Regions from separate parts of the Homo sapiens genome. Here region 2 is linked to region 1. Evidence: fine-mapped expression QTL. A gene starts in region 1. The other region holds a variant in brackets. All regions are shown on one strand. Distances are between the middles of the regions.

Region 1 (10,678 bases):
GATGTATGGGAATGGAAATATGATACAGATTAAAAGTAAACAAGGCCGGGCGCGGTGGCTCACGCCTGTAATCCCAGCATTTTGGGAGGCCGAGGCGGGCGGATCACCTGAGGTCAGGAGTTCGAGACCAGCCTGGCCAACACAGTGAAACCCCGTCTCTACTAAAAATACAAAAATTAGCCGGGCGTGGTGGCGGGCGCCTGTAATCCCAGCTACTCGGGAGACTGAGGCAGGAGAATCGCTTGAACCCGGGAGTCAGAGGTTGCAGCGAGCCGAGATCGCGCCATTGCACTCCAGCCTGGGCAACAAGAGTGAAACTCCATCTCAAACAACAGCAAGAACAACAAGAAAAAAAAAAAAAAGAAAAGAAAAAGAAAGAAAACCAGTAATCCGTGTTCGCTTTATGCTGAGGTCTATAACAAGTCATTTCCTGGATGGATCTGTCACTGTGGCCTACAGAAAGGAAGTCCATACACACCCCAATGTTCACACGAAATGTAATAAGGAAGTAAGTTCCGAAACGCAGAGCACCCCTAAACGCCTATTTTCCACACTCCCACCTCCAGAACAGGCCTTTCGCTTCTCACCTGGGATGAGGTTCCATCGAGCGCTCGCTGCAGAGCCCGCACCACGGCCACCGCCTCCTCCCCGCTCTCTGGGCAGTGCTCTCGCACCCAGGCTTGAAGCTCCTCGGGCAGGATGGTGAGGAACTGCTCCAGCACCAGCAGCTCCAGGATCTGCTCCTTGGAGAGCAGCTCGGGTCTCAGCCACCGACGACAGAGTTCTCGGAGCCGGCTCAGCGCCTCTTCCGGTCCAGCCACCTCCTGGTAACGCAGCTGCCTAAAGTGCAGTCGAGAAGTTTCGGGGTCCGGCGAAGCCGCGGGATAGTTGGGCTCCCAACTTCCGGGTGAGTCTTCCTCCACTTTCACGGGCAAAAGTCCGTCGCGTTGGGACGGCGCCGCGTCCTTGGACCTCGCAGCCATCACCCAGGGTCCCAACTCGGCGTCACTGCCGCGCCTCTGGGCGGTCAAGCTGGAATTCATCTTTCTCCGGCATGTGCTGCCCTTCCTGGAGTCTTCTTTTCAGGTGAAGAAAGAGCAAACCCAAGGAACTCATCAGCCGTCAACACCCTCCGGTCCCAAACACCGGGCCCCACCACACCAGGCCCCTCTCCACACTCTCCTTTCCTCAGCTTTGCGCCTACAACTCTCTCGGTCAAACAACCGAAAACATCCCGTGCCGGAAGCGCGTCATCGAGGCCTTGCGGCACCTTTCCCTGCATTTCCGGGGCCTCTCTAGGCGCCTGATGGGGTGAGGTGCATCTCGCTGGTTTATCGTCCTAGCCCCGCCCGACGCAGAGGGTCTTGACGGTTTCCCGCATCCCGAGGAAATACGGGCGTCCGAGCCGGTGGCCGAGCTCCGGCAAGGGCGGGAACCTTCAGGATTAAATAGACAGGGTCTGGCTCTGTCGCCCAGGCTGGACTGCAGTGGCGCGATTTCGGCTCACTGCAACTTCTGTCTCCCGGGTTCAAGCAATTCTCCAGCTTCAGCCTCCCAAGTATCTAGGACTACAGGTGCGCGCGACCACGCCCGGTTTATTAATTTTTCTGTGGGGATGGGGTTTCATTATATTGCCCAGGTTGGACAAAGTTGTTTTTTTTTCTTTTTTCAGGCGGACTCTCGCTCTGTCGCCAGGCTGTCTTAGCCTCCTGAGTAGCTTGGACTACAGGCGCGCGCCACCATGCCCGGCTACTTTCTGTATTTTAGTAGAGATGGGGTTTCACCATGTTGGTCAGGCTGGTCTGGAACTCCTGACCTCGTGATCCGCCTGCCCCGGCCTCCCAAAGTGCTGGATTACAGGCGTGAGCCGCTGCGCCCAGTTGGAAAAAGTTTTGTTTTTTTTTTAAAACTAAGTGCTTCCATGTACATCAGATGTTAACGACTTTGATCCTAACAAACAAACAAAAAAGATGAGGAAATTGAGGCTCAAAGATGTGTCCTGGCCTGGCTCAGTGGCGTATGCCTGTAATCCCAGCATTTTGGGAGGCTGAGGGGGGAAGATCGCTTGAAGCCAAGAATTGGAGACCCCAATGTCTACAAAAAATAAAAAATTAGCTGGGTGTGGTGGTGCACACCTGTAGTCCCAGTGAGAGGTGAAGCTAGTTGGACTTCCTGGGTCCAGTGGGGACTTGGACAACTTTTCTGTCTTACAAGAGGTTTGTAAAAATGCACCAATCAGCGCTCTGTAGCTAGCAAGAGGTTTGTAAAATGCACCAATCAGCGCTCTGTAAAATGGACCAATCAGCAGGATTCTAAAAGCAGCCAATCGCAGGGAGGATGGAAAAAAGGGCGTTCTGATACGACAGAAACGGACATGGGAGGGGACAAATAAGAGACTAAAAGCTCCCACCCCAGTCAGCGGAGGCAACCGGCTGGAGTGCTCTGCCATGCTGTGGAAGGTTTGTTCTTTCGCTCTTCACAATAAATCTTGCTGCTACTCACTCTTTGGGTCCGTGCCATCTTTAAGAGCTGTAACACAGTGAAGGTCGGAGGCTGCATTCTTGAAGTCAGCGAGAGGATGAACCCACTGGAAGGAACCAACTCAGGATACACCACTTACTTGGGAGGCTGAGGTGGGAGGATCCTTTGAGCCCAGGAGGTAAAGACTGCAGTGAGATATGATCGCACCAGTGCACTCCAGCCTGGGTGACAGAGCAAGACTCTGTCTCTAAAACAAAGTGTCTTGGTTGATGTCAAGCTGCTGGTGATTTGCAACTTGCATAAAATGAGACGATCGCTTGAGACCAGGAGTTCCAGGCCAGCCTGAGCAACATAGAGAGGATGTGTCTCCATATAAAAATAAAAAAATTTTTTTTTGAGAGGGAGTATCGCTCGGGTTCAAGCGATTCTCCTATCTCAGCCTCCCAAGTAGCTGGGATTACAGGCGCGTGCCACCACACCCAGCTAATTTTTTGTATTTTTAGTAGAGACGGGGTTTCACCATGTTAGCCAGGATGGTCTTGATTTCCTGACCTCGGCTCACTGCAACCTCTGCCTCCTGGGTTCAAGCAATCCCCCTCCCCACCCCACGCCCAAACAAACCGAACACTATTTATCAATCCAGGTGTGTTTAATAACTAGACATAAAAATATCTCTTATGGAGCCAGGTGCGGTGGCTCACGCCTGTAATCCCAGCACTTTGGGAGGCCGAGGCGAGGGGATCACCTGAGGTCGGGAGTTCAAGACCAGCCTGACCAACATGGAGAAACTTCGTCTCTACTAAAAAATACAAAATTAGCCGGGCATGGTGGCGCATGCCTGTAATCGCAGCTACTCGGGAGGCTGAGGCAGGAGAATCACTTGAACCCAGGAGGCAGAGGTTCACTAAGCCAAGATCGTGCCATTCACTCCAGCCTAGGCAACCAGCAAAACCATCTCAAAAAAAAAAAAAAAAAAAAAAAAAAAGGAAACTAGTCATCTTGGCTATCTCTAGAGAGAAAAATGAATGTAGAATGAGAATGAGAGGAAGACCTTAAGTGCCTTATTGAATTTTGACTCATGCAAATGTGTTATCTATTTAAGAAATAAATTATTGAAATGCAAAAGGTGTTTATAAATAATTCAAACCGGTTGCGGTGGCTCACGCCTGTAATCCCAGCACTTTGGGAGGCCGAAGCAGGCAGATCACGAGGTCAGGAGATGGAGACCATCCTGGGTAACACGGTGAAACCCCATCTCTACTAAAAATACAAAAAGTTATCCAGGTGTGGTGGCACACACCTGTAATCCCAGCTACTCAGGAGGCTGAGGCAGGAGAATCGCTTGAACCCGGGAGGCGGAGGTTGCAGTGAGCCGAGATCATGCCACGGCACTCCAGCCTGGGCGACAGAGTGAGATTCCGTCTCAAAAAAATAAATAGATAAACAAACAAATAAATAAATCATTTAAATGGAGGTAAATATATTAGAAAAGAATGGGTATCCACCAAACATTTTTTTTTTTGAGACGGGGTGTCTCTGTCACTGAGGTGCTGAAGTGCAATGGCACAATCATAACTCACTGCAGCCTCAACCTCTTGAATTCAAGTGATCCTCCAGTCTCAGCCTGCTGAGTAGCTGAGACTATAGGCATGTGCCACCATGCCTAGCTAATTTTATTTTATTTTTTGTAGAGACGGGGTAAAAAGGCCAGGCTGGTCTTCAACTCCTGGATTCTAGTGATCCTCTCACCTCGGCCTCCCAAAATGTTGGGATTACAGGCGTGAGCCACCATGCCCATCTGGAACAACTTTCATAGACATTAAACAACTTTATACGAGCAACAAAATTAAGCCATAGGTGCAAAATTCTATACCAACTCACTAACACACAAAATACGGGCATTGCAAACATTCACCGGGGGTTTGGTCCTAGATAGGAAGCTACTTAAAATGCAAGATTTTGGGCTCCCTGAAAAGAGACCTTTAACTTCTAAATATCTTCTCATCTTTTTGCAGATGCTGCAATTTCACAGCAGTTCCTTCCTTCGCGCCTGTAAAACAGTGGCAACAGTAACTCTTCTCCTGCCTGCCCATCAACTTTGTAAACTGCGCGGGGCGTAGGGGGAGGGGAGGGCTGGGGCCTGGAAACTATAAAGCACCATATGAAAAGGAGAGCACTGGGAGGTCGATGCGGGCGCATCACCTGAGGTCAGGAGTTCGAGACCAGCCTGGCCAACATGGGGAAACCCCGTCTCTACTAAAAATACAAAATAAGCCGGGCGTGGTGAGTGTGCCTGTAATCCCAGCTACTCGAAAGGCTGAGGCAGGAGAATTGCCCGAACCTGGGAGCAGAGGTTACAGTGAGCCGAGATCGTGCCATTGCACTCCAGCCTGGGGGACAACGAGACTCCGTCTCAAAAAACAAAACAAAACAAAACAAAAACGGGAGATTATTACTAAGAGATGGGGTCTCACTATGTTGCCCAGGCTGGAGTGCAATGGTGCGATCCCGGCTCACTGCATCCTCAGCCTCCCGGGTCCAAGTGATTCTCCTGCCTCAGCCTCCCAAGTGGCTGAGATTACAGGCTCGCGCCACCACGCCCAGCTAAGTTTTTGTATTTTTAGTAGAGACGGGGTTTCACCATGTTGGCCAGGCTGGTCTCGAACTCCTGGCCTCAGGTGATCCACCCACCTCGGCCTCCCAAAGTGCTGGCATTACAGGTGTGAGTCACCGAGCCCGGCCAAGGGAGGGTATTTCTAATAGACAGGGGTCTCGCTATGTTGCCCGAGCTGGTCTCGAACTCTTGGGCTCAAGCGATCCTGCTTCTTCAGCCTGTCCACTAGCTAGGCTTACAAGCGTGGGACCCCGCGCCTGGCTGAAGAGAGGTATCATTAAGGACGAGACCCCCTTGGCCAGGGAAGCCCTGCGTAAGCAACGCCCCTCTCTTCAAAGGGATGCCCCGCTCCCTCCGCCCACTCCCAGCCTTCCAGCCTTGGCTCCCGAGGACACGACTCCGGGCCCTGCCACCTTCTGATAGGCTCGCGAGACCGAGGCTGCAAAGAGAGCCGCCCCCCATTGGCCAACCGGCGAGTCCCGCGCGCCACCTCCTGGGAGATGTAGTTCCGGGAACAGCTGGCCCCTGCGACTCGCGGGTGTGACGTTGAAGATGTCGGCCTTCTGAGCCGACTGCGGTGGTCAAGAGGTGGGTTTGTTTGGAAAGTGGGTGGTGAGAGTAGCGAGGATGCGGGTGAAGAAAACCTAAGGGCCCCAAATTCAACATAAGCGAGGTTTGCGGGCTGTCAGCAAGGTACAGACCTACTTCAAATCGGGGCGCAGAGCGTTGGGGGTGGGGGAAGGCGCAAGCTCCCCGGCCAATCAGACACGAGCAACCTCAGCCCAACTCTGGAGGCCCCGCCCCCTTCCCCGCCCCACGGAAAGGGGAGGAGCTTGGGCTGTTTGAATGGCTTTGGGATGGAGCAGGGGAGAGAGTGGCTCCGTTTGCCTCCCCGCTTTGGTGATGCTGTGCGAGCGGCTTCGGGGGCCCTGGAGACGTCCGAGTCACTGAGGGTGGGCTGGGACTCGGGGCCCGCGTCCCATCTCCCCGCCGATTGGTCCGCCCCCCGTGCGAGGTGAGGTCCTCCGGGATTCCTAGAGAGGACGCGGAAGTGCTTTCGGGGGGGGGTGGGATCTAACGGTTTAACCCCGTTGGACAGGGCAAGATTGGACTTGGTTACTTCCGGCGAGGAAGTGTTGGGGAGTGTCGGCTTCGGTTTCTCTCCGTGGGAAGAACCGCATCTTCCCAGCCTCGGCTGCGGGGAGCTTGATGTTCCAGGAGAGCTCCCCTAGAGTGGGGCCTTGAGGGGAGGGGGCAGGGGCTTCGTGACTGGACGGGGGTCCTGTCCCTAACCTTGACCGGGCCACAGTCTCTGTATCTCGGGGTCAGGGGCCATTCTGAGGAATCCAGGTCCAGATCTGTACCTTATAAACGCTGCTTCTCTTTGGGACCGATGGAGTCTCCCCTTGGCCTGTCAAGCTCTTGTAGCTTAGAGAACAGGCTCAGTTTTGACCATTATAATGATTTTCACCCTTATTCCGACTTAAGTTCGTCTTATGGTAGAGAGAAAGAGCGGCTGCGTCTGGACTAGTTAGTCTCGTCCCGTTATTTATATGGAATGTAAAGTTCTTCACTCTAAAACTGTGTTTTAGGTTGGGCCTGATGTCAGATTTGTATGGCTCTCTTTTACACTTTTAAAATGTTGGGGTTATTCCTTATTATCATTTTGTGGGTGAAGTGATGGCTACCTTGTAGTACCTATTTTTAAGTAAATTACTTTGTTGAGTGGTCGTCTTTAGTATAGATGACCTCTTTGCCATCTGTCTTTGCTAATAATGATGCCCAATACATCAGTAGGTTGCATGCTACTGAAAGTGTCCTTCAGAAGATATTAAAGAGCAGAAAAACAATTGTTTCAGTGTAACACAGCCAGCCTCGAAGACTTCCCTCTGAGTTGGAATGATAATGACCGAATCCCGAGAAGTTATAGACTTAGACCCCCCAGCTGAGACTTCCCAGGAGCAGGAAGACCTTTTCATAGTGAAGGTGGAAGAAGAAGACTGCACCTGGATGCAGGAGTACAACCCGCCAACGTTTGAGACTTTTTACCAGCGCTTCAGGCACTTCCAGTACCATGAGGCTTCAGGACCCCGGGAGGCTCTCAGCCAACTCCGGGTGCTCTGCTGTGAGTGGCTGAGGCCCGAGCTGCACACGAAGGAGCAGATCCTGGAGCTGCTGGTGCTGGAGCAGTTCCTGACCATCCTGCCTGAAGAGTTCCAGCCCTGGGTGAGGGAACATCACCCTGAAAGTGGAGAAGAGGCGGTGGCCGTGATAGAAAATATACAGCGAGAACTTGAGGAACGCAGACAGCAGGTGAGTCAAAGAGAAGCTATATGAGCAATGAAGGAGAGGAGTGAACCATCTGCTGAGCAGGGGTGAGATTCTTAGTCCTCTGCTGCTTCATTCATATTCTTTTGTTCTCCTGGGATTAGGTACCCTGTGACTTCCTGCCACTCCAGCAAAGAGAAGCAATATCCAGTGTGTTAACCTGTAGAAGACAATCTGCGATCTTATTTATTTTTTAAATTACTGTATTTATTTAATTATTTATTTTTGAGACGGAGTCTCGCTCTGTCGCCTATGCTGGAGTGCAGTGGTGCGATCTCGGCTCACTGCAAGCTCCGCCTCCCGGGTTCACGCCATTCTCCTGCCTCAGCCTCCGGAGTAGCTGGGACTGCAGGCGTCCGCCACCAGGCCCGGCTAATTTTTTTTTTTTTTTTTTTTGTATTTTTAGTAGAGACGGGGTTTCACCGTGTTAGCCAGGATGGTCTCGATCTCCTGACCTCGTGATCCTCCCACCTCGGCTTCCCAAAGTGCTGGGATTACAGGCGTGAGCCACCATGCCCGGCCACTGTATTTATTTTTTGAGTGACATGATACAAAATTCAAAGAGGTACATAAGGTTGTAATGAAAAGTAAGTTTTCCTCCCATCCCCAATTTCTCTCAACTGCCTAGTTCTCACCTGTGTATTCTTACAGAGCTGTACCATATTCTGTATGTATAAGCATATATACGTCTCATACTTTGGAAAAACGCAAATGTCTTTTAAGTCACTGTGCACTTCTGCCTCTTTTTTCTTATATCTTGGTTTCTTCCACGCCACTGCCATTGCAGCTATCTCACTCTCTGAAATTGCATTGTATTAACTTTTATGGAAGGAGTTTGAGTTGTTCCATTTAAATTGTTCCTTGAGATTGTTTCTAAATTTGTATTATAACAAACTTTGCTGCAATGACTATCTCACATATATGTCTGTATATATGTGTGTATGTAATATACATAATGTATGTGTTTGCGTATATATGTATATATATGCGTATATATGTGTATATATGTGTATATATGTATATATGTGTATATATATGTGTGTATATATGTATATGTGTATATATATATGTATATATATGTATATATATGTGTATATATATGTGTATATTTATGTGTGTGTGTATATATATATGTATATATATAGGCTGGGCGCAGTGGCTCACACCTGTAATCCCAGCATTTTGGGCACCTGAGGTGGGAGGATCACTTAAGACCAGGAGTTCCACATCAGCCTGGGTAGCATAGCGAGACCCCATCTCTACCAGAAAAACCAAACAAAAAATTAGCTGGGTGTGGTGGCATGCACTTATACTTCCAGCTACTCAAGAGGCTGAGGCAGCAGGATCCCTTGAACCTGGTAGTTTGAGGCTGCAGTGAGCTGTGATTTTGCCACTGTATTCCAGCCTGTGTGACAGAGGCATACCCTATTTCAAAAAAAAGTAAAAAGTTAAAAAAATTTAAATTGAAAAAATATATGTATATAAAATTAACTGTAGAAGGAATGCTTGAAACTCAAAATTGTTGGCTTAGAAATACATGTGTAGGCCGGGCACGGTAGCTCATGCCTGTAATCCCAGCACTTGGGGAGGCCGAGGTGGGCAGTTCATGAGGTCAGAAGATCGAGACCATCCTGGCCAACATGGTGAAACCCCATCTCTACTAAAAAATACAAAAATTAGCCGGGCGTGGTGGCACGCACCTGTAATCCCAGGCACTCGGGAGGCTGAGGCAGGAGAATCGCTTGAACCTGGGAGTCGGAGGTTGCAGTGAGCCGAGATTGTGCCACTGCACTCCAGCCTGGCAACAGAGCGAGACTCCATCTCAAAAAAAAAAGTACATTTGTAATTTTGATAGCTGTTGACAGGTTGGTTCCCTCATAGAGGGTATAACAATTTAGAGTACCACCAACAATGTATGAGAGAAATTTTGTGGCCATAGCCTGGTAGAACAATGTTATCAAAATTGGTCATGATTGCCAGTACATAAGATGCAATATTGGCCGGGCATGGTGACTCACGCCTGTAATCCCAGCACTTTGGGAGGCTGAGGCGGGTGGATCATGGGGTCAGATCAAGACCATCCGGGCCAACATGGTGAAACCCCGTCTCTACTAAAAATACAAAAATTAGCTGGGTGTGGTGGCATGCACCTGTAGTCTCAGCTACTTGGGAGGCTGAGGCAGTAGAATCGCTTGAACTTGGGAGGCAGAGGTTGCAGTGAGCCGAGATTGCGCCACTGCACTCCAGCCTGGGCGATGGAGCGAGACTCCCATCTCAAAAAAAAAAAAAAAGATACAATATTTTATTTCTGTGAAATTTTTCTTTCTTTCTTTCTTTCTTTCTTTTTTTTTTTTTTTGGAGACAAGGTCTTACTCTGTCACCCAGACTGTAGTGCAATGGTGCAATTTTGGCTTACCCTCCACCTCCCAGGCTCAAGCAATTCTCTTGCTTCAGCCTCCCAAGTGGCTGGGATTACAGGCATGTGCCACTACCGCCTGGCTAATTTTTTTAGTTTTTTTATTTTTATTTTTTTGAGGTGGAGTCTCACTCTGTCACCCAGGCTGGAGTGCAGTGGTGCGATCTTGTCTCACTGCAACCTCAGCTTCCTGGGTTCAAGTGATTCTCCTGCCTCAGCCTCCCGAGTAGCTGGGATTACAGACATGCACCACCATGCCCAGCTAATTTTTGTATTTTTAGTAGAGACAGGGTTTCGCCATGTTGGCCAGGCTGGTCTTAAACTCCTGACCTCAGGTGATACTCCTGGCTCTGCCTTCCAAAGTGGTGGGATTACAGGCGTAAGCCACATGCCCGGCTTAATTTTTGTATTTTTAGTAGAGATGGTGTTTCACCATGTTGGCCAGGATGTTCTCAAACTCCTGACCTCAGGTGATCCACCTGCCTTGGCCTCCCAAAGTGCTGGGATTGCAGGTGTGAGCCACCACGCCTGACCATATCTGTGAAATTTCAATTAAATTTCTTTTGTTTGACCACAGCACTTTTTTTTTTTTTTTGAGACAGAGTCTCACTCTGTTGCCTAGGCTGGAGTGCAGTGGCGTGATCTCTGCTCACTGCAAGCTCCACCTCCCGGGTTCATGCCATTCTCCTGCCTCAGCCTCCCAAGTAGCTGGGACTACAGGCACACGCCACCATGCCCGGCTAATTTCCTGTATTTCTAGTAGAGTCGGGGTTTCACCGTGTTAGCCAGGATGGTCTCGATATCCTGACTTCGTGATCTGCCCACCTCGGCCTCCCAAA
Region 2 (10,678 bases), 27 kb before region 1:
GTTGGTCAGGCTGGTATCGAACTCCCGACCTCAGGTGATCCACCCGCCTCGGCCTCCCAGAGTGCTGGGATTACAGGCGTGAGCCACCGCGCCCGGCAATTTTTTTGTATTTTTAGTAGAGAAGGGGTTTCACCATGTTGGCCAGGATGATCTAAATCTCTTGACCTGATCCGCCGGCCTCTGCCTCCCAAAGTGCTGGGATTACAGGCGTAAGCCACCGCGCCTGGCCCATTTTTCTTCTTTTATCTGATAACCTTACTCCCCTCCACAAACACACAGCCAAAGAAACGAATTGTGTCGCTCTTGAATCATAGAATAATTCTAAATTATGTTACGATTAAACAGGAGGGGCGGGGCCCTGTCCATCACGTGACTCTCTCGGTGCTGTCTCCGGCCGTTGATTGGCCTGGGCGGGGAGGGCGGCCGTTGATTGGTTCGGGCCCACTCGCGCGGGCGCCACTCTCTTTGTCTGACAAGAGAGTCGTGAAGCCTCCGCGGTCCTAGAGGGGCCGCTGGCTGGGACGCTTCGCTCGGCGCGCGCAGGTGGAGCCAGCGAGAGGCTCTGAGGCTGCCAGAGTGGTTGTGTCTGTTCCTCCGGTAAGGGGTGATTCGCCGAGGGGCGCGGACCAGACAGACCTCGGGTCAGGCCCGGGAACCCCGAGAGGAGAGCCCAGCCCCTGGTGGAGGCGGCTTGGCGGAGATTCGGAGCCGTCAGCAGGTTTGGGGAGAAGGAAACGAGTGTTGTGGGGGGCGTGGGTGCGGGGGGTAGGCCACTGCGCACACCCCCGGCTCGCAGGGGACGCTCCGGGTTTGTGCGGCGGCTCTCGGGGCCTGTGGCACCAGCTTTTGAGTATTTTTGGCGGTGTCAAGTCTTCGGCAGCGAGAGGAGCAAAGTCCGAAGAATGAATGGATGGTGAACGCCTGGACTTGGTTTTGTTAGAGTGGGAGATGAGCCGTGGTTGTTAGTGGAAGGTGTTCACGTGATTGTGAAGCGGCATTTTGGATTTTGTCAAAAGTTAACAGTCCCCTCCAGTTAAAGTTTTAAGAGTTTATTGTGCATGCAGAGGAACAGCTGGCAAATTGTTCCAATGGCAGCTTGGAAAGCTAAATGAGGAAGTGCAGTGATCTTGATTGTAATTGGCCATTATCAACTTGCATTCCTTCTAGGGTAAGTCGAGCTGGATCAGCCTCGCATCTGTAGCTGATTGGTTCAGTTTATCATGCGGACGAGAAAAAAGCTTCTTTCCTGGTCAGCGCACACTTTTCAGGGAAATAAGGAATTGTTGTTGCTGTTGTGTTTGAGACGAAGTGTTACTCTGTTGCCCAGTTTGGAGTACAATGGGCCAATCTCGACTCACTGCAACCTCCAACTCCCGGGTTCAAGCGATTCTCCTGCCTCAGCCTCTCGAGTAGCGGGGACTACAGGCACGCGCCACCATGCCCGGCTAATTTTTGTATTTTTAGTGGAGACTGGGTTTCACTATGTTGGCCAGGCTGGTCTTGAACTCCTGACCTCATGATCCGCCCGCCTCGGCCTCCCAAAGTGCTGGGATTTACAGGTGTGAGCCACCACGCCCGGCCTGTTGTTTTTAAGAGAGACAGGGTCTTGCTCTGTCACCCAGGGTGGAGTGTAGTGGTGCCATCATAGCTCATTGCAGTCTCCAACTCCTGAACTCAAGGGAGAAATCAATGTATTTTAAATGCCTTACATGGCTGTGGGTGGTTGGCCTAGGGCCGTACCCAAAACATGGACTCCATTTAATTTTTCATTAGCAAGTCTGACATTCAGATGCACAGCCTTCACAAACACATTCAGTAAATATAGTGCAGGGGTGTCCAATCTCTTGGCTTCCCTGGGCCACATTGGAAGAAGAATTGTCTTGGACTACACATAAAATACACAAACACTAAAAATAGCTCATGAGCTAAAAAAAAATCGCAAAACAATTTCATAAGGTTTTAAGAAAGTTTACGAGCCGGGCGCGGTGGCTCACGCCTGTAATCCCAGCACTTTGGGAGGCCAAGGCGGGAGGATCACGAGGTCAGGAGATCAAGACCATCCTGGCTAACACGGTGAAACCCCGTCTCTACTAAAAATACAAAAAATTAGCGGGGCGTGGTGGCGGGCGCCTGTAGTCCCAGCTACTCGGGAAGCTGAGGCAGGAGAATGGCGTGAACCCGGGAGGCGGAGCTTGCAGTGAGCCGAGATCGCGCCACTGCACTCCAGCCTGGGCGACAGAGCGAGACTCCACCTCAAAAAAAAAAAAAAGAAAGTTTACGAATTTGTGTTGGGTTGGATTCAAAGTCGTCCTGGGCCATATGCGGTCCACAGGCTGAGGTTTGGACAAGTTTGGTGTAGAGAATGAAAGGGATGAGGCCTTTGCTCCAGCCTTGGAGCCATTGATCAGGATAGTTTTTAGAGTGTACCTCTTTGCTTAAAAGGCAGAGGGTCCACCCTGGGCAACATAGCAAGGCCCCACCTACAAAAGAACTACAAACAACTGGGCGTGGTGGTGCACTCTTGCAGTCCCATCTGCTTAGGAGACTGAGGCAGGAGCATTGCTTAAGCCCAGGAGTTGGAAGCTACAGTGAGCCATGATTACACCACTGCACTCCAGCCTGGGTGATAGAGGGAGACTCCTCAAAAAAAAAAAGAAAGGCAAAGGGTCTTCTAAACTGTTTTCAGGGAAGGTGAACTGTGTTTGAGGGGCATCCATTAAAATGAAAGTGAATTTCATTAAAATTCATCCTGAGTTAGAAAGCAAGTCTGTAGGCTGGGCGCAGTGGCTCACGCCTGTAATCCCAGCACTTTGGGAGGCTGAGGTGGGTGGATCACCTGAGATCAGGAGTTCAAGACCAGCCTGACCAACATGGTGAAACCCCATCTCAACTAAAAATACAAAAAAGTAGCTGGGCATGGCGGCGGGTGCCTGTAATCCCAGCTACTTCCGGAGGCTGAGGCAGGAGAATCGCTTGAACCCAGGAGGCGGAGGTTGCAGTGAGCAGAGATCACACCATTGTACTCCAGCCTGCACAACAAGAGTGAAACTCTGTTTAAAAAAAAAAAAAAATCAAGTCTGTAATTGTTACTGTTGCTGAATCCTGCTAGCAAATCACCAGGCTAGAGGTGAGGGTTGAGTGACCCCTTTAGAACACTTTCAGAGGGGGCTTGTCAGCAGGTGGAGCTGGCTGTAGGAGCAGGGTTGGAAATACGTAAGTAGATTTAGAGAAAGAAAAGCTGGTGAACTGGAATCCCTAGGATAACTAGACTCGGACATCCTGTGTGATAGGGGAGGGGAGCATTTGGCTTTCTCCTGTTGGTCCTAAATTAAAGGGAGTGGGGAGCAAAATTTTGGATAAAGCTGTTATTGATCAAGTCCTGATTTGGGGCCCATGCCTCAGAGGCTATGGTTTGGCTTCCAGAGCTGGTTGCTGCAGGGTGTGGATCAGAGTGCTATTTTTTCTTTCTTTTTTTTTTTTTTTTTGAGATGGAGTCTTGCTCTGTCACCAGGCTGGAGTGCAGTGGTACAATCTCAGTTCACTGCAACCTCCGCCTCCCAGGTTCAAGCGATTCTCCTGCCTCAGCCTCCCAAGTAGCTGGGAGTACAGGTGCCTGCCACCTCGCCCAGGTAATTTTTTGTATTTTAGTAGAGAAGGGCTTTCACCATGTTGGCCAGGATGGTCTCCATCTTCTGACCTCGTGATCCACCCGCCTCAGCCTCCCAAAGTGCTGGGATTATAGGCGTGAGCCACCGTGCCTGGCCAGAGTGCTATGTTTATATGTGGTCTATCTGCTGTCCCTTTGTATATGAGGTGCAGAGTATGACATGTTCTAGGGAGAAGGGGAGGGCAGGGCTGCAGGTTCTCTTGGATGGAGCTTGGGAAATTGAAATTACTAGACTTATTGTAGCGGCTCATGCATTTCATCACATGTTCCAACACCAAACACAGGGACTTTGTATTAAGCTTTGTCTGTGTGCCCCGTTGGAATTCCGGGTCCCAGATCTGCCAACCAAGAGAGCTTCAAATTAGGGCTGGCCTTACTGACTTTTTTTCTTCTCCAGCTCAGCCAGACGTCCAGGATCCCACCCCTTGCAAAAGACCAGGCCGTGGAAGCCATGTTCCCACCAGCCAGGGGGAAGGTGAGCTGTGCCTCCCCCTCTGCTTCATCAGCATAGTCACTGCCACCAGCAGCTCCTTCCTCAGACTGAGCCCTCTTGATCAATGTGGGGAGTTTTCCTTCTTAGACAGTGCAATGTAGAGAGCTTAGCCTCTGGAGTCACATGGGCTTCCTTCAGTTACATAAACACTCTGGCTCCAGTTTTCTTTTCTGTAAAATGGGTCAGTGAGAGTGCCTATCACAGCGAGTTGTGAAGATTCAATGAAAAACACCCTGTGAAGTCCTTTGTGCAGTATCTGGTTACTCGTTTAGCACTGTGTTAAGTTGTTGCTCTTATTACCGTAGTAGTTGCCCATTGTTTCTGTCTGTGAGCATTATTGTGCACCTACTGCTGTACACTCCAGGTGCTGTTTTCTGTGCTGGGAGATCAACTCTTACCTGTAGGAGATTACAACCTGATTAGAGAGATAGTTGTGTAAGGAACTTCTCATAATAAATTCTGAACTGTTCCTATGAACGGGTATAATGGAAGGTCAGTTATTGAATTTGTAGCATTATGGAGGGTGATTAGAAGAGACTGAGTTGTTTTGTCTTTTTTTTTTTTTGACGGAGTCTCACTCTGTTGCCAGGCTGGAGTGTAGTGGCGCGATCTCAGCTCACTGCATCCTCTGCCTCCCGGGTTCAAGTGATTATCCTGCCTCAGCCTCCCAAGTAGCTGGGACTACAGGCGAGTGCCACCACGCCCAGCTAATTTTTGTACTTTTAGTAGAGACGGGGTTTCACCATGTTGGCCAGAATGGTCTCCATCTCTTGACCTCGTGATCCACCCACCTCAGCCTCCCAGAGTACTGGCATTACAGGCGTGAGCCACTGTGCCCAGCCTGTGTTTTGTCTTTTTTTAGACGGAGTCTCACACTGTTGCCCAGGCTGGAATGCAGTGGCATGATCATGGCTCATGGCAGCCTTGACCTTCCCAGGCTCAGGTGATCCTCCCACCTCAGCCTCCCAAGTAGTTGGGACCACAGGTACATGCCACCACGCCTGGTTACTTTTGTATTTTTTGTAGAGACAGGGTTACACCATGTTGCCCAGGTTGTTCTTGAACTCTTGGCTTGAGCCATCCACCAGCCTCAGCCTCCCAAAGTGCTGGGAATCCAGGTGTGAGCCACCGCGCCCAGCCTAGAAGAGACTGAGTTTGAAAGAAAGGAGAGGACCAGTGGCTCATGCCTGGAATCCCAGCACTTTGGGAGGCTGAGGGGGGTGGATTGCCTGAGGTCAGGAGTTTGAGACCAGCCTGGCCAACATATAGTGAAACTCCATCTCTACTAAAAATACAAAAATTAGCTGGGTATAGTGGCGCATGCCTATAATCCCATCTACTTGGGAAGCTGAGGCAGGAGAATTGCTTGAACCGAGGAGGTGGAGGTTGCAGTGAGCCGAGATCGCGCCATTGCACTCTAGCCTGGGCAACAAGAGCGAAACTGTCTCAAAAAACAAAAACGAAAACAAAAACCCAAACAAACAAAAAATGGAACTTTTAAGCAACATTTGGTGCCCATCTGTCAATGTACAAGTCCTAGCTGTTGATGGGTTCTTGGAAACTGCAACTTTAAGGGAAACTATGTATATCAAAACCGTTTTTTTTCCATCAGTGTTACAGTGAAACAAAGTTATTCAAGGACCTGCTGCTGTACATACTTTTGCTAAAAATCAGTTTCCAAGAACCTATTGTGGATGTTAGGAGAGGAG[T/C]TACCATGCCACAATGACTCTGGGAGATGAAGCCATTTTATTCCCATGCTTGTTAACCTTGTGCAGGTGCGGGAATGCAGATGGCTGAGTAGGTCAGATTGAGGACATGGCAGCGCAGCTCTGGTAAAAGAGTGACACTCTGGATAATGGTGAGAAAGGGCCTGCAACCGTAGCAGTGGAACTCAGGTTTGATAGGCAGGAAAGAAAGTCCGTATAATTTGGGAGGTTCTGGTGCCTGCCTGCAGAGGGGAGCTACGTGAAGCTTCTCAGGATGGTCTCAGGATGGGGGTGGGCATTTCCTGTTACTGACCACTTATAGGACAGCGAACGTTTGCCCTTTCCCTGCACACATCCCCTCTGAACCCATGCAGTGTCTTGTGAGAGCAAGGAGTGTGTAGACAGCCGCTGGGCCCCTTTGCCCAGAGGGCTGCAGTGGTGTGGGAGGGAGAGTGTGGCAGCTTCAGTGCTCAGCCCACTGGAGGGGGCAGTCACTTGCAGATGTAATGTCCCCTGTGCTCACTGTGCTGTGTCCACTGTTGCCCACTCTGGATATGCTCCCCAGGCGTCTGCGCCTTGGTCTGTACCTTTTATATTCTCCAGCAACGGGCTCCCCTGGTCTCTGGCATCTGCTTGGCTTGTGGCAATGGGATGAAGAGGGTTGGAGGACAGGGGACAGGGCGCCGGAGGCCTGGGGAAAACTGAGGTTGGGTTTCTCTTCCCACGGCTCCCTCCCCACTGGGCTGTGGGATGGGTGTGGCTGCATCCTGTTCAGCCGCAGCTGGTCTTGCTCCCCTTCCAGCAGCCTTCTGGGCTCCAGCAGCCCTCCCCACCTTACCCCTTCAGACCTAGCAGGCCCTGGTTCCCCAGGGTGGCCAGGACCTGCGAGCTTCCACATTTCTTGTTCATGTTCATTGAGACTATTCATCCCTTTGTAAATAGTCTGCACATTAACCAACCCCCCAGTGACCTCATCTCTTTCCTAAGGAACCTGGGGCAGAAGCAATAGGTTATTTTTATAGAGCAGCGGTCAGCAAACTGCCCTGGACCGCTTGGTAAAGTTTCCCTGAAACACAGCTGTGCCCATTCGCTTACTTGTCCACGGCTGCTTTTGTGCTCCAACACAAAGGCTGTTCCTCAGATTGTTGATTTGCTGTTCCTCTAATCAACAGCAGATTTGAGGAACTGGAACAGAGACCAGAGGGCCTGAAAAGCCTAAAATATTTACCATCTGGCCCTTTAGAGATTAATTGTGTCGACCCCGTGGTATGGAAGCCAGCACATGTCTGGCCTGAGGGCCATCAGGCCTGAAAGGAGCCCTGAATATATTCCTTATGAATTGGGTGCCCTTGGCCCACACTCTACCTCCCAAACCTTGGTTTCCTCAGCTGTGGAATAATCATTGAGCGTAAGTTATTTTAAGAATTGCAGTTACCTTTATCAGCTACTTTTCCAGGAGCTGCTCTCGTTTGAGGATGTGGCGATGTACTTCACCAGAGAGGAGTGGGGCCACCTCAACTGGGGTCAGAAGGACCTCTACCGAGATGTGATGTTGGAGAACTACAGGAACATGGTCTTGCTGGGTAGGACACGGCTTGAAGATTGGGCTTTGTCTGTGTTCTGAGTGTCTGTGCAAGCCCTTAGTCCCTTATCTGCAATTCCAGAATCAGAAAAAGCGGTGAAAACCGAAAGGTTTTTTTATAACTCGTGTGGCTACAAGCCCTGACCAGACATCACCACAGTGAAACCTGACTTCATCCTATAGGAAACCATTTATTGTCTTTATTTTTCCAACTTGGTGTGCATATCTGTATACCCAACTTCAGAAATAACAGTGTAGGCCAGGTGCGGTGGCTCACACCTGTAATCCCAGCACTTTGGGATTCCGAGGCGGGTGGATCACATGAGGTCAGTAGTTTGAGACCAGCCTGGCCAATATGGTGAAACCCAGCTCTACTTAAGATGCGAAAATTAGCCTGGTGTGGTGGTGCACGCTTGTAGTCCCAGTTACTTGGGAGGCTGAGGCAGGAGAATCGCTTGAACCCGGGAGGCAGAGGTTGCATTGAGCCGAGATCATGCCGCTGCATTCCAGCCTGGGTGACAGAGCGAGACTCCGTCTCAAAACAAAACAAAACAACAACAAAAATAACAGTGTATTTGAGGGCACCACTCCAAACCCTACTGGGGATGATACGTTATGTAAAATATTTACACCAGGTCACCTTTCTGAAATGGGAAAAATTCTGACTCCTGAAACACATCTGGTCCTAAGGGTTTCACATAAGGGACTGGGGACAGTGAATAGTCGTGTTGTGTTAGGGCTCAGACCGAGACACTTCATGCATTCTTCACTCTCACCTCGTGTTCCTCATCTGTAAGACCTCCAGGAGTTGAGAATTATGGTAGATTTACATTCCAAAGGCTCACTTCTTATGCTCTTGAAAGTCTTTTTCTTTCTTTTCTCTGGAAATGGGTAACTTCTTGGTGTGTAACATTAGTGGGTGCTCAGGAAATGATTTTCAACCAACTTCATTTCTGAACCTTCACTGCTTCCATTCTTTTCAGGAGCCTACCCTGTCCTAGTCCACTGTAGTCTCCCACTGTGGGAGTTGCCTTGCTAAATAGTTTTCTTTCCGGGGTCACATGTTTAACCCTTGCACTGACACTCTTAGCACAGAGTCTTGACCACCTCTGTGGGACTGTCCACCCACCTCTGGATTTTTATAATTTTAATTTTCCCTTTAAAAGCATTACAGGAGCATACATAAGTACATGGAAGGCATAGAAAAGGAGGAGAAGAGGAAAGTGTTCATGGGTAACACTGTTAATATTTTGGAAGGTTTCCTGCCAGTCTTTTTTTCCTATGCCTTTACAAAAGTAGCTGAGCATATTCTATGTGCAATCCTGTAATCTGTTTTAAATGTAACATTATTGTATCAGCATTTCCCCACATAATCAGTAAACGAGCATAATATAATTCCATTGTGTGGTCCATAAAAATATTTCATTGTTTTCCCATGTGGGGACATTGAGCTTGCCTTTGTTTGTTCGTTGGTTTGCTTGTGTATTTATAATGTTTGAATAGATGTTTGAGTATAAATCTTTGCATGAATTTTTGATCATTTCCCAAGATACTTTCCCAAAATCAGAATTTTGAAGTTAAATGAGATGGCACTTTAATCTTTATTGATTACTGAATGATTCTTCAACAAACTTTGTACTGTTTTGCATATCCAATAGTAACATTTTAGAGTGCTTCTTTTTTTTTTTGAGACAGAGTTTCGCTCTTGTTGCCCAGGCAGGAGTACAATGGCAGGATCTCAGCTCACCACAACCTCTGCCTCCCCGGTTCAAGTGATTCTCCTGCCTCAGACTCCTGAGTAGCTGGGATTACAGGCATGTGCCACCACACCTAGCTAATTTTGTATTTTTAGTAGAGACGGGGTTTCGCCATGTTGGTCAGGCTGGTCTCAAACTCCCGATCTCGGGTGACCCGCCCACCTCAGCCTCCCAAAGTGCTGGGATTACAGGTGTGAGCCACTGCACCCAGCTGAGAGTGCTTCTTTACTATATCACTGCCTTCTTTTATGGATTTTACTAGTTCTAAAAATAATTTTCATTACAGAAATTTTGGAAAATACATCAGTAAATAGAGTAGATAATAAAAATCACCTGCAGGCCTACTTTCCAGAAGTAACTCTTGTTATTAACATTTTGGTTTACTTTTTCCCAGTCCGTCTATGTGTCTATTACAGGGAAAGAATCCCTTATCCAAAATGCTGGGGACCAAAAGTGTTTTGGATTTCGGATTTTTCTTTTTTGGATTTTGGAATACTCATAAATATATAATAAGATAATTTGAGGATCTGACAAGAAATTCACTTATGTTTCATATACACCTTAGACATGTAGCTTCTTCAAGCTACGCTTGATTTAATTGTTCCCTTTTGATATTCAGTTTATTTCCAGTTTGATGCTGCAATACCACTGTGCTGAACGTCTCTGGCACATTCATCTTGGTTGCAATTGTACTTTAGGCTATATTTCTAAGAGCGAAATGACCACAGCCAAAGGTATGAACATTGTTCAGGCTTTCAATAAAGACTGCCAGATATTTACAAAGATTGTGCCAATCTCTGTTTTTCCCTGGGGAAGGCTGAATTAACTGTGTGTTGTGCACCTGCGTTTTGACTGCCACTGGTCACGTGAGGTCAGGTGTGGAACTCTCCACTTTTATCAGGTTAGTGCTCAGAAAGTTTCGGATTTGGGAGCATTTTGGATTAGGGATGTTCAAACTGTATTAATTACTTATACACACACACACATAACATACACACTACATAGTTTTTTAAAACAAAATTTGGGGTCAGGCATGGTGGCTCATGCCTGTAATCCCAGCACTTTGGGAGGGAGGTCAAGGTGGGCGGATCACCTGAGGTCGGGAGTTCGAGACCAGCCTGAGCAACATGGAGAAACCCTGTCTCTACTAAAAATTCAAAATTAGTCAGGCGTGGTGGCACATGCCTGTAATCTCAGCTATTCCGGAGGCTGAGGCAGGAGAGAACACTTGAACCCGGGAGGCGGAGGTTGTGGTGAGCCAAGATTGTGCCATTGCCCTCCAGCCTGGGCAACAAGAGCAAAACTCTGTCTCAAAAATAAAAAAAATTTGGATCATGCTATATATGAGTTTTGTATTCTGCTTTAAAATACATAGGCAGTGTTTTCCTATTTTAATAAATAGTTGGGCTGGGCACGGTGGCTCACGCCTGTAATCCCAGCACTTTGGGAGGCCGAGACAGGTGGATCACCTGA

Evidence for each region.
Region 2: its variant is fine-mapped to the expression of ZKSCAN5 in whole blood (INTERVAL, PIP 0.98).

What each region holds. Positions count from the first base shown.
Region 1 is chr7:99,499,051-99,509,728 of GRCh38, forward strand. It overlaps ZKSCAN5 (zinc finger with KRAB and SCAN domains 5), which reads left to right and starts at 5,612. Exons shown (of 7, transcript NM_145102.4): 1 at 5,612-5,683; 2 at 6,955-7,408. The coding sequence starts at 6,995. ZNF394 (zinc finger protein 394) reads right to left here and starts at 1,231. Exons shown (of 3, transcript NM_032164.4): 1 at 588-1,231. The coding sequence starts at 1,043. RefSeq lists enhancers at 1-339, 562-841, 5,199-5,248, 5,639-5,818, 6,199-6,278 and a silencer at 9,794-9,987.
Region 2 is chr7:99,472,339-99,483,016 of GRCh38, forward strand. ZNF789 (zinc finger protein 789) reads left to right here and starts at 552. Exons shown (of 5, transcript NM_213603.3): 1 at 552-718; 2 at 4,065-4,142; 3 at 7,323-7,449. The coding sequence starts at 4,119. RefSeq lists enhancers at 172-261, 552-841. The variant T/C (reference allele first, on the strand shown) is at 5,870.